Linked DNA regions of Homo sapiens: region 2 is linked to region 1. The links come from fine-mapping of genetic effects on gene expression. A gene starts in region 1. The other region holds a variant in brackets. All regions are shown on one strand. Distances are between the middles of the regions. Region 1 holds the start of ISG15 (ISG15 ubiquitin like modifier). Region 2 holds the start of PERM1 (PPARGC1 and ESRR induced regulator, muscle 1).

Region 1 (5,214 bases):
CGAACTCCTGATCTCAAATGATCCTCCCGCCTCAGCCTCCCGAAATGCCGGCATTACAGGCATGAGCCGCCTGGCCTGGATAGATGTTTATGATACACTGTTGCATGAATGAAGCAGGTTACAAAACAGTGAAAGTATGGTGAGGCCTTTTCACCTTTGCTTTTTATTGATGTGAAATTCATATAACATAAAACTAACCATTTTAAAGAATGAAATCCAGTGGCGTTTAGTTATTTACCACGTTGTCCAACCATCACCTCTGTGGAGTTCTGAAACATTGTCACCCCCAAAGGGGCTTGTGGCTCTGAAGCAATCACCCCCCACTCCCCCTCCCTGGCCCCCGGTAACGGGGTCGGCTTCCTGTGCTGCGGCTCTACCAGTTCCGGTCGTTTCCCCTGCGGTGAATGGAACCAACACTCTGCGGCCTTCGTGTCTGGCTCTTTCCACTTAGCATAACGTTTTCAAGGTTCTTTCACATGAATCAGTGCCTCAGTCCTTTTCATGGCTGCATAATATTCCGTTGTGTGGACATTCCACACTTTGTGTGTCCATCCATCACTGATGGACATGTGCTCCGTTCCTGCTACTTGTTTATTGTAAACTGTGCTGCCATGGACATTTGTATGCAAGTATTTGAACACCTATTTTCAATTCTTTTGGACACATGCCTAGAAGTGGAACTGCTGGGTTCCCAATAATTCTGTTGAACGTTTTGAGCATCGCGGCGGCCGCACTGTTTTACATTCTCAACAGCAATGCATGTACCAGGATTCCAGTTCCTCTATGTATTCCCCAGTGCTTGTTACTGCCTTTATGTTTATTTTATATTATTTTTTGAGACTGTCTTGCTCTGCTGCCCAGGCTGGAGTGCATTGGTGCAATCTTGGCTCACCACAATCTCTGCCTCCTGGGTTCAAGGGATTCTCCCGCCTCAGCCTCCCAAGTAGCTGGGATTACAGGCGTGCACCACCACGCCCAGCTAATTTTTGTATTTTTAGTAGAGATGGGGTTTCTACTAAAAATGTTGGCCAGGCTGGTCTCAAACTCCTGACCTTAGGTGATCCGCCCGCCTCAGCCTCCCAAAGTGTTGGGATTGCAGGCGTGAGCCACCGCACCCGGCCTGGCCTTTATTTTTATTATTACAGTCATACCAGCAGGAAATAGCATCTCACTGGGGTTTTGATTTGCATTTCCCCAATTAATAATGATGTTGAACATCACTTTACAGCCGTTTCTATGTCATTGGAGAAATGTCTATTGAAGTCTTTTGGCCATTTGAAAATTGAGTTGCCTTTTTTTTTTATTTTTATTTTTTATTGAGTTGTAAGAGTTCTCTATATGTCCTGGATGCTATGCCCTCATCAGATAGATAATTTGCAAATATTTCTTCCCATTCTATGGATTGTCTTTTCACTTTCTCAATAGTGTCCCAGAGTTCATTTTTGTAGAAAATAAAAGATAGGTCTCTTTTATTAAAAAACAATCTGAGGCTCCGGGTGCAGTGGCTCACGCCTGTAATCCCAGCAGTTTCAGAGGCCGAGGCAGGTGGATCACTTGAGCCCAGGAGTTCGAGATCAGCCTGGGCGACATGGCGAGACCCCCATCTCTACTAAAAATACAAAAAATTAGCCGGGCCTGGTGGTGCACCCCTGTGGTCCCAGCTACGTGGGAGGCTGAGGTGAGAGGATCGCTTTAGCCTGGCAGGCGGAGGTTGCAATGAGATGAGATCGTGCCTCTGCACTCCAGCCTGGGCGACAGAGTGAGAGACCCTGTCTCAAAAACACAAAAACAACAACAAAAAAACACCAATCTGAGCAAATACTGCCCTAAACCGAGTGTTGTTATCTCTGGGTAGTTTGGAGTTCTTGTTTCTCAATTAACCATGGGGATGTTTTCCAAGTTTACTAATTTTGCAAGTTGGTAAATGGAAAATGAAACCATTAGTCCATGTGATGACAGCTTTAGTGCATCCTGTGAAGGATCTGGAATGCGCGATATTTAGGTGTTTCCAGGGTGTTGGGTGGGGGTGGGGATGCCGTCCGCTGTCCGGAGTCCCCGCCACTTTTGCTTTTCCCTGTCTTTCGGTCATTCGGTTTTGTTTCTTCCGCTCACTCTGGGGCATGCCTCGGGAAAGGGAAACCGAAACTGAAGCCAAATTTGGCCACCAGCGCAGGCTCGGCGGCACGCCCCCTGACGTGTGTGCCTCAGGCTTATAATAGGGCCGGTGCTGCCTGCCGAAGCCGGCGGCTGAGAGGCAGCGAACTCATCTTTGCCAGTACAGGAGCTTGTGCCGTGGCCCACAGCCCACAGCCCACAGCCATGGTAAGGCAGATGTCACAGGTGGGGGGAGGTGGGCTCTGTGCCAGCCAATTTTCGTCTCCCTCCCCCAGCCAAGGTCTCCCAGGGGTGCAGGGAGAGCGGAGCTGCTCAGAGCTTGGCCAGGTTCTAAGTGTGCTCCTGAAAGCAGGTCACCCCTGAGATCCTCAGGGTGGGGCACAGAGGGGCACCCTAGCAGGTAAAGGGAGGCCACGGGATGGCGGTGGGCAGCTGGCCTTCTAGTAACGAGCCCTCAGTGCCTTCTGTGCCTGGGGTCCCTGCCGGCGGGATGTAGAGGACAGACAGGAGGGAGCACTGTCCCTGGGTACAGGAGCTCGCCCTGCAGCCAGTGCCTTGTGTGTGGTGGGCCTGGGGCTGGCGCCGCAGTCTCTGAACCTGTGTGACGCCTGCAGGGCTGGGACCTGACGGTGAAGATGCTGGCGGGCAACGAATTCCAGGTGTCCCTGAGCAGCTCCATGTCGGTGTCAGAGCTGAAGGCGCAGATCACCCAGAAGATCGGCGTGCACGCCTTCCAGCAGCGTCTGGCTGTCCACCCGAGCGGTGTGGCGCTGCAGGACAGGGTCCCCCTTGCCAGCCAGGGCCTGGGCCCCGGCAGCACGGTCCTGCTGGTGGTGGACAAATGCGACGAACCTCTGAGCATCCTGGTGAGGAATAACAAGGGCCGCAGCAGCACCTACGAGGTACGGCTGACGCAGACCGTGGCCCACCTGAAGCAGCAAGTGAGCGGGCTGGAGGGTGTGCAGGACGACCTGTTCTGGCTGACCTTCGAGGGGAAGCCCCTGGAGGACCAGCTCCCGCTGGGGGAGTACGGCCTCAAGCCCCTGAGCACCGTGTTCATGAATCTGCGCCTGCGGGGAGGCGGCACAGAGCCTGGCGGGCGGAGCTAAGGGCCTCCACCAGCATCCGAGCAGGATCAAGGGCCGGAAATAAAGGCTGTTGTAAAGAGAAATGGCCGCCTCTGTGTCTGTGCTTGCCCCTCCTCCAGCGTCCGCCTCAGACCCCTGGTGATGGGGCGGGAGAAGTCAGGAGGGAGAACCCAGGGTCCATCCTGGTGACCAGGCCTGGGCTGCCAAGTGAAGGGATAAGGGTTTGCAGTTACAGCTTCGAGGGATCAAAATAGGGAGCCCCCCACCCCGAAACTGAAGTAAGACAGCTCTCCCCACCCTTTGGGAAATTAACTTCTAGGAAAAGAAAAAGAGACACAGTTGCTGGAGCCCATCCTGCCTGTCCTCCATCTGGGACAGCAGACGGCTTAGGCAGGGACCCGCCTGATCAGATCAAAAGGGGAGGCTCCCAGTGGGCCCCTGGGAGCAGTAAGGGGTGAGTCCTTGGGGCCTGCCCGGTGGGCTGTGAGGCAGGCTCTCCATAGGAACTGGGGGCTGGGGACCTCAGCCGTCCCTAGCCCAGCCTACACAGCCTGCTCCACCTGCCTGGGCTGGGCTAGGGAGGGGTAGAGACAGGTCCTGAGCACTCACATCACCACTGGGGCCAGCTGCAGAAGACAGCCTGGGTGGCTAAGTACACCCCCTCAAGGCTGTGCGTGAAGGAGGGGCCGTGGCCAGCAGTGGAGGGCACCTGGAGTTGGGGCTGACACCGTCCAGGAAGCAGAGCTTGTCCCAGGTGGGGGGCCCCCAATTCAGTACAAGCTACAAGCTACACCCCTTCCCCCACCCATGCACCCTTCTCTGTCTCTCCTATTCCAATTTGCTAAATGAGTCTCCTAGAAGCCAGCTGTTGGCCGGGAAGCAGGGAGGACGGGGCACGGATGTCGGCTGGGATGCAGCGAGGACGGGGCACAGAGGGACATGCAGAGTCCGGACTCTGGGCACTTGGGCCTCAGCTTTCAGAGCCCTCGGGAGGATCCGGCTGGAGACACAGAGTCCCCCCTGGTCTGTGGGGGTCCATATCCAGGTGGGGAGACCCCCATCTGGCTGCACCAGGACCACTGTGTGTGCCCGCATGTGCCCAGCAGGGGGTGTCCTGGCTCCAGCCTTGTGTCCGGGTCCCCACCTCACCCCTGTGTCACAATGGGCGAGTGAAGCACTTAGCCAGGGGCCTTTCCTGAACCCCCAACGGGGGCAGGGCAGGGCAGGGCCTCCTTTGTGGCTTCTGGCTCAGAGATCTGTAGCTAGCCTGGGGTGAGAGGGGCACCACAGGCCCAGTCCTTTTTATTATTATTTTTTTTGACACGGAGTCTCGCTTTGTCGCCCAGGCTGGAGTGCAGTGGCGCGATCTCTGCTCACTGCAAGCTCCACCTCCCGGGTTCACGCCATTCTCCTGCCTCAGCCTCCCGAGTAGCTGGGACTACAGGCGCCCGCCACCACGCCCGGCTAATTTTTTTTTGTATTTTCAGTAGAGGCGGGGTTTCACCGTGTTAGCCAGGATGGTCTCGATCTCCTGACCTCGTGATCCGCCCATCTCGGCCTCCCAAAGTGCTGGGATTACAGGCGTGAGCCACCGCACCCGTGCTTTTTTTTTTTTTTTTGAGATAGAGTCTCACTCTGTCGCTCAGGCTGGAGTGCAGTGGCGCCATCTCGGTTCACTGCAACCTCCACCTCCCGGGTTCAAGCAATTCTCCTGCCTCAGCCTCCCAAGTAGTTGGGATTAATGGTGCCCGCCACCTCACCCAGCTAACTTTTTTTTGTGTTTTTAGTAGAGACAGCGTTTCACTGTATTGGCCAGGCTAGTCTCGAATTCCTGACCTCATGATCCGCCCGCTTCAGCCTTCCAAAGTGCTAGGGTTACAAGTGTGAGCCCCCGCACCCGGCCTAATTTTTGTATTTTTAGTAGAGATGGGGTTTCATCATGTTGGCCAGGCTGGTCTTGAACTCCTGGCCTCAAGTGGTCCGCCTGCCTCGGGCTCCCAAAATGCTGGGA
Region 2 (5,214 bases), 30 kb before region 1:
GGCCACAGGAAAGGTTTACAGGGCCCAGCAGGTGCCCAGCCCTCGGCGATGACCTTCCGATCGCCTTGGCTGGGCCAGGCTATTCTCTGAGCTCACCAGGTGGTGCTGGCCAGAGCTGGCCCAAGTCAGCACGGAGAGCCTGGGCAGGAGGTGCAGGCTGCGGTGGGTCTCTTGACCCAGCAGCCACCTCGGGCCGTCCTCGAGGTCTGCACCACGATCCAGGCCTGCCCGGCTGCCCGGGGTGCCTTCCTTTGCCCCGTCTCAGAGAAGCAAGGAGACCCTAGCCAGCTGTCGGGTCTACCCCTAGAGGGGGCCGCCCTCGGCCTCAGGTCAGCCCCTCTGGACCCAGGGGTGGGAAGTCACTTTGGTGGGGACGGTCCTGAGACGGAGGCCAGGGCATGGTGGCTTCCCACCCACTGACCTTCGCCCTCCTCTCTGGTCTCTTGAGAAGCCTCTGTGGGGGTTGTTACCATTGGGGCCCCTTGGGTCAGGAGCCAGCAGCTGACCATGTCCTACCTGGGTCCCGGCGGCCGAGCTGGGCGTCTGAGCTGCCCGTCCTGGGTCGGCATGGTGCTAGGCTGTGGCTGCACAGGCTCCTCCCCCTGTGCCAAAAATACCACGTCCCTGTGGCCACATGAGACTCGTGCCAGCCATCAGGGTCCAGGCCACAAATAGATGGCATTTGAGGGCCCTCCAGCTACAGTACATGAGGACGACTTCCTGGCACGGGGCCGGGCTGAGGTGGGGTCAGACACGGGCCGGAGGACGCTGACCAGCAGGCAGCACCGCTCAGTTCCCGTGCCTCCGCCACCCGCGGTGAAACCTCAGACCTGCCCTCCCTGCCGCCCCTGGAATGTTCCTGGCCTGCTTCTGAGATGGCCTCTGTGTCCCGGCCAGGGCTTGTGCCTCCCGGTCCTGACCTCTGGGGCTCATGTGAGGGTGAGTGACGCCAGGGAGCGTCAGCGTCAGAGCCCCCACGCCTGGCTCCGCTCAGCTGCACCCTCCAGGCCGTCCTGACCTTGGGGTTCACGGTGCCCATTCCCAGGCAGGTTCCGAGCCAGAGGGGACAAGAGGACAGGGCGAGGGATCCAACAATAAACATCCGATCAAACAGGCAGGTGAGCTCAGCTCCGATGGCAGCACGTCCTGAGAAAGAAGTAGGGAGAGGCGTGGCTGGAGGGGCCGGAGACCTCTCTAAGGAGGAGGCTTGGACCGAGAAGCTCCTGAGAGTTCAGGGCACGATACTAGGAGACTGGGGTGTGCGCCGTGAGGGGTGGCAGTGAGAGCTGGGCGTGCAGAAAGTGCATGCCTGGTGCCATACGATGCTTTTCCAGAAAGTAGCTGCCACGAGACCACAGGACAAGGCGTCCCGCCACGCAGGGCCGGCCTGACTTGAGCTTTCACAAGTGGAATCGCACCCTGCATCCCTTTCTGCATCTGTGTCCTCGGGCCCACGCCGTGCTCTGGAGACAGCTGCCATGAGGGCCGCGGGCGACTGCCCGGGCGGGTGAGGCTGTCCTGTGTGAACGTGCCACGCGGCTGTGCCGTTTCCCGTGGGTGGCGATGTGGGTCGTTTCCAGTTTGCAGCTACCACACACGGTGCGGCTGTGAATATCTGGGAACATTCCTTTCGGCGAACCTCTCACATTTCCAGGACGCTTGGGGTCAGCGTCAGAAGGTGCCGCCCCGTTCCCCAGGTGGCTGCGTGGCCGTGCTCCAGGCTGGAGTTTCCCAGGAGCTGCGCATCTGCTTCTGTGTGGCGTCTCTCGGCTGCGGCCGCCTCCCTGTGCCTCCTCCCTGTGGGTCTGTAGGAGTCCTTACGTATTCTGGACGAGCTCTTCATTGAACTCTTGTACTGGGGAATCTTCTCCCTCTCTGCCTCCTCTTTCCACCCTCATAACGGTACCTTTCTTTGCTTGTTTGTTTGTTTGAGACGGAGTTTCACTCTTGTCGCCCAGGCTGATGTGCAATGGCAAAATCTCAGCTCACTGCAACCTCCGCCTCCCAGGTTGAAGAGATTCTCCTGCCTCAGCCTCCTGAGTAGCTGGGATTACAGGCAGGCGCCACCATGCCCGGCTAATTTTGTATTTTTAGTAGGGACCAGGTTTCTCCATGTTTCCCAGGCTGCTCTCAAACTCCTGACCTCAGGTGTGAGCCACCGCGCCCGGCCTATTCCTTCATTTAAAAAAAAACTTCAC[T/C]GTGTCGCCTTTCACGCTCGGCTCTGCCACACACTTGGCATTGACTTCTGTGAGAGGTGGGAGGTGGGGGGCACGGGACTCCTGTCTTCACGTGGACGCTCAGCTGACCCAGCAGCACATCCTGGGTGGCATGCACGTGGCATCCGGGCCCCACGTGGACCATCACGAGATGAGAAGGCTTTGGGGCTTGGGACAGGAGAGGCAGGGAGGCCGACGGCAAGGCTGTGGCCAGGGAGCTGTGCGAGGAGGTCTAGGGTGGCGGAGGGAGGGGCCCTACCCTGAGGCCTTTTCATGACGAGCTGTCACTGGAGTTGGCCTGAGGCTTCAGGGGAAGCCCTTCCCTGTATCCAGCCCAGTCATGACCCTTCCTGGTGGGAGGGTGGCTGTAGGATGAGGAATAGTCAGGGCCCCCCTGCACTTCAGGCAGCAGCACCCCTCAGTCCAGGGAGGAGGAATAACCCAGTTCTACGGTGGAGGCAGAGACCAGACCCGGGCCTGGGGGGCAAGTCGGGGGGCGGGGGGAGGTCGGGCAGGGTCCCCTGGGAGGATGGGGACGTGCTGTGCCCCTAGCGGCCACCAGAGGGCACCAGGACACCACTGCGGTCGGCTCAGCGGCTCCTGCCCTGGTCAGGGGGCGCCAGGTCCTGCCCCTCCTGGGGAGGGCGGGGGGCGAGAAGGGCGATTCTGGGGGCGGTTGCTCGGCTCCCTTTCCTGAAGCCATGTGGCCCGGGTGAAAGTCCCGGACCTTGAGACAGTCGGGGAGCTGATCCATGAGCAACCATCGCATGCCGGGTACAGCCGCAAACAATGTACACAGCTGCGGAATTATTTTTCTTTCTTTTTTCTTTTCTTTCTTTTTTCCTTCTTATTTATTTATTTATTTATTTATTTATTTATTTATTTATTTATTTGAGATGGGGTTTCGCTCTGTCGCCCAGACTGGAGTGCAGTGGCGCAATCCCAGCTCACTGCAGCCTCCACCTCCCAGGCTCAAGTGATCCTCCAGCCTCAGCCTTCTGAGTAGCTGGGATCACAGTCGCCATCGCCAAGCCCGGCCTCCTTTTCATTTTTTATAGCTTTATTGAAGTATAATTAACACGTAATACACTTCAAGTATTTATTTATTTAACTATCTATCTATCTATCGTTTGAGACGGAGTCTCACTCTGTCGCCCAGGCTGGATGGAGTGCAGTGGCTCCATCTCGGCTCACTACAACCTCCGCCTCCCGGGTTCCAGCGATTCTCCTGCCTCAGACTCCTGAGTAGCTGGGACCACAGGCGCCCACCGTGTCCGGAGAATTTTTGTATTTTTAGTAGAGATGGGGTTTTGCCATGTTGGCCAGGCTGGTCTCGAACTCCTGATCTCAAGTGATCTGCCCGCCTTGGCCTCCCAAAGTGCTGGAATGACAGGTGTGAGCCGCCCCGGTCTTCAAGTATTTAAAATGTGCAGTTCGCTAGGTTTGGACACATATACCCCCGGGAGCCACCACAAACGTCTCCAACACTCCCAAACGTTCCTTTGGCCCCTTGGTGATTCTTTCCCTCCCCACACTCAGGCAACCCCGAATCCGCTGTCCCTGCAGAGTAAGTTGCATTGGCTAGAATTGTCCGCTGGGCCCTTCTTCGTACAGGACAGAAAAGTACAACACGCCTGTCCTCTGTGACAGCGTTTCTTAGAGATTCACCCACACTGTGGTATATGTCAATTGTTGCTTTTCATACAAAGTGTTCCATTGTTGGATACACTACAGTTTCTGTATCCATGCCTCTCTTGATGGACATTTGGATTATTTCTAGTTTGGGGCTATCACAGGTAAAACTGCTACGAACATTTGTGTACAAGTGTTTGTACTGTGAAAGGAAAGTGAATTTTGGGACCCCCCAAATCACTGAGCCAAATGGAAAAGTCAAGCTGGCAACTGCTTAGGGCCCACCTGCCTCCCGTTCTATTCTTTAAAAAGACAGCTTCTAAGATTTAAATAATAAACAGCTGCCTCCCTCCCTCAGGACGTGTTCACAGGGGAACTCCTTGCAGACACAGGATGAGCAGAATTCAAAGCCGTTCCTCTGCTTGCTGAGATGAGTGAACATCTAATCAGAAACTCAAAAGAATGCGACCCTCTGTTTTATCACCTGTGACCTGGAAGCCCTCTCCCCTCTTCAAATTGTCTCGCTTCTTGGGACTGAACCAATGTACATCTTACACATATTATTGAAGTCTCATGTCTTCCTAAAATGTAGAAAACCCAGCTGTACCCCGGCCACCTCGGGCACAGGTCGTCAGGACCTCCTGAGGCCGTGTCACGGGCACGTCCCTAACCTTTAACCTTGGCAAAATCAACTTTCTTTCTTTTTTTTTTGAGACAGAGTCTGGCTCTGTCGCCCAGGCTGGAGTGCAGTGGCGCCATCTCGGCTCACTGCAAGCTCCGCCTCCCGGGTTCATGCCATTCTCCTGTCTCAGCCTCCCGAGTAGCTGGGACTACAGGCACCCACCACCACGCCCAGCTAATTTTTTAGTATGTTTAGTAGAGACGGGGTTTCACCGTGTTAGCCAGGATGGTCTCGAACTCCTGACCTCGTGATCAGCCCGCCTCGGCCTCCCAAAGTGCTGGGATTACAGGCGTGAGCCACCGCGCCCGGCCTGGCAAAATCAACTTTCTAAATGGATTCAGACCTGTCTCAGATACCTGGGGTTGACCGTGTGGACACATGCTTTCATTTCTCTTGGGTACATACTCGGAATTGGAGTGGCTAGATCATATGATAGGTATATGTTTAACTTTTTGAGAAACTGCCAGACCGTCTTCCAGTGTGGTTGTACAATTATTTATTCCCACTAGAGGTTCCAGGCTCCGTGTCCTCGTCCTCACCCACACTCAGCGCGGGACAGCTTTGTAATTCAGTCATCCCAGTAGGCGCTCATTCTGGTTTTAATTTGCATTTCCTTAATGATGAACAACACTGGGCATCTTCTCACGTGTGCATTTGTTATCCATGTATCTTCTTTGGTAAAAA

The links. PIP is the estimated chance that this variant, and not a neighbour inherited with it, causes the effect. A credible set is the group of variants that fine-mapping cannot tell apart.
Region 2: its variant is the best candidate, but not a certain one, in a credible set for the expression of ISG15 in fibroblasts (GTEx, PIP 0.54).

What each region holds. Positions count from the first base shown.
Region 1 is chr1:1,011,255-1,016,468 of GRCh38, forward strand. ISG15 (ISG15 ubiquitin like modifier) reads left to right here and starts at 2,243. Exons shown (of 2, transcript NM_005101.4): 1 at 2,243-2,322; 2 at 2,730-3,286. The coding sequence starts at 2,320. The coding sequence ends at 3,224. RefSeq lists enhancers at 1,906-2,325, 2,213-3,104, 2,726-3,135, 3,105-3,996, 3,296-3,355 and 1 more and a silencer at 4,282-4,502.
Region 2 is chr1:981,549-986,762 of GRCh38, forward strand. It overlaps PERM1 (PPARGC1 and ESRR induced regulator, muscle 1), which reads right to left and starts at 545. Exons shown (of 4, transcript NM_001394713.1): 1 at 517-545. RefSeq lists a silencer at 2,789-2,878. The variant T/C (reference allele first, on the strand shown) is at 2,199.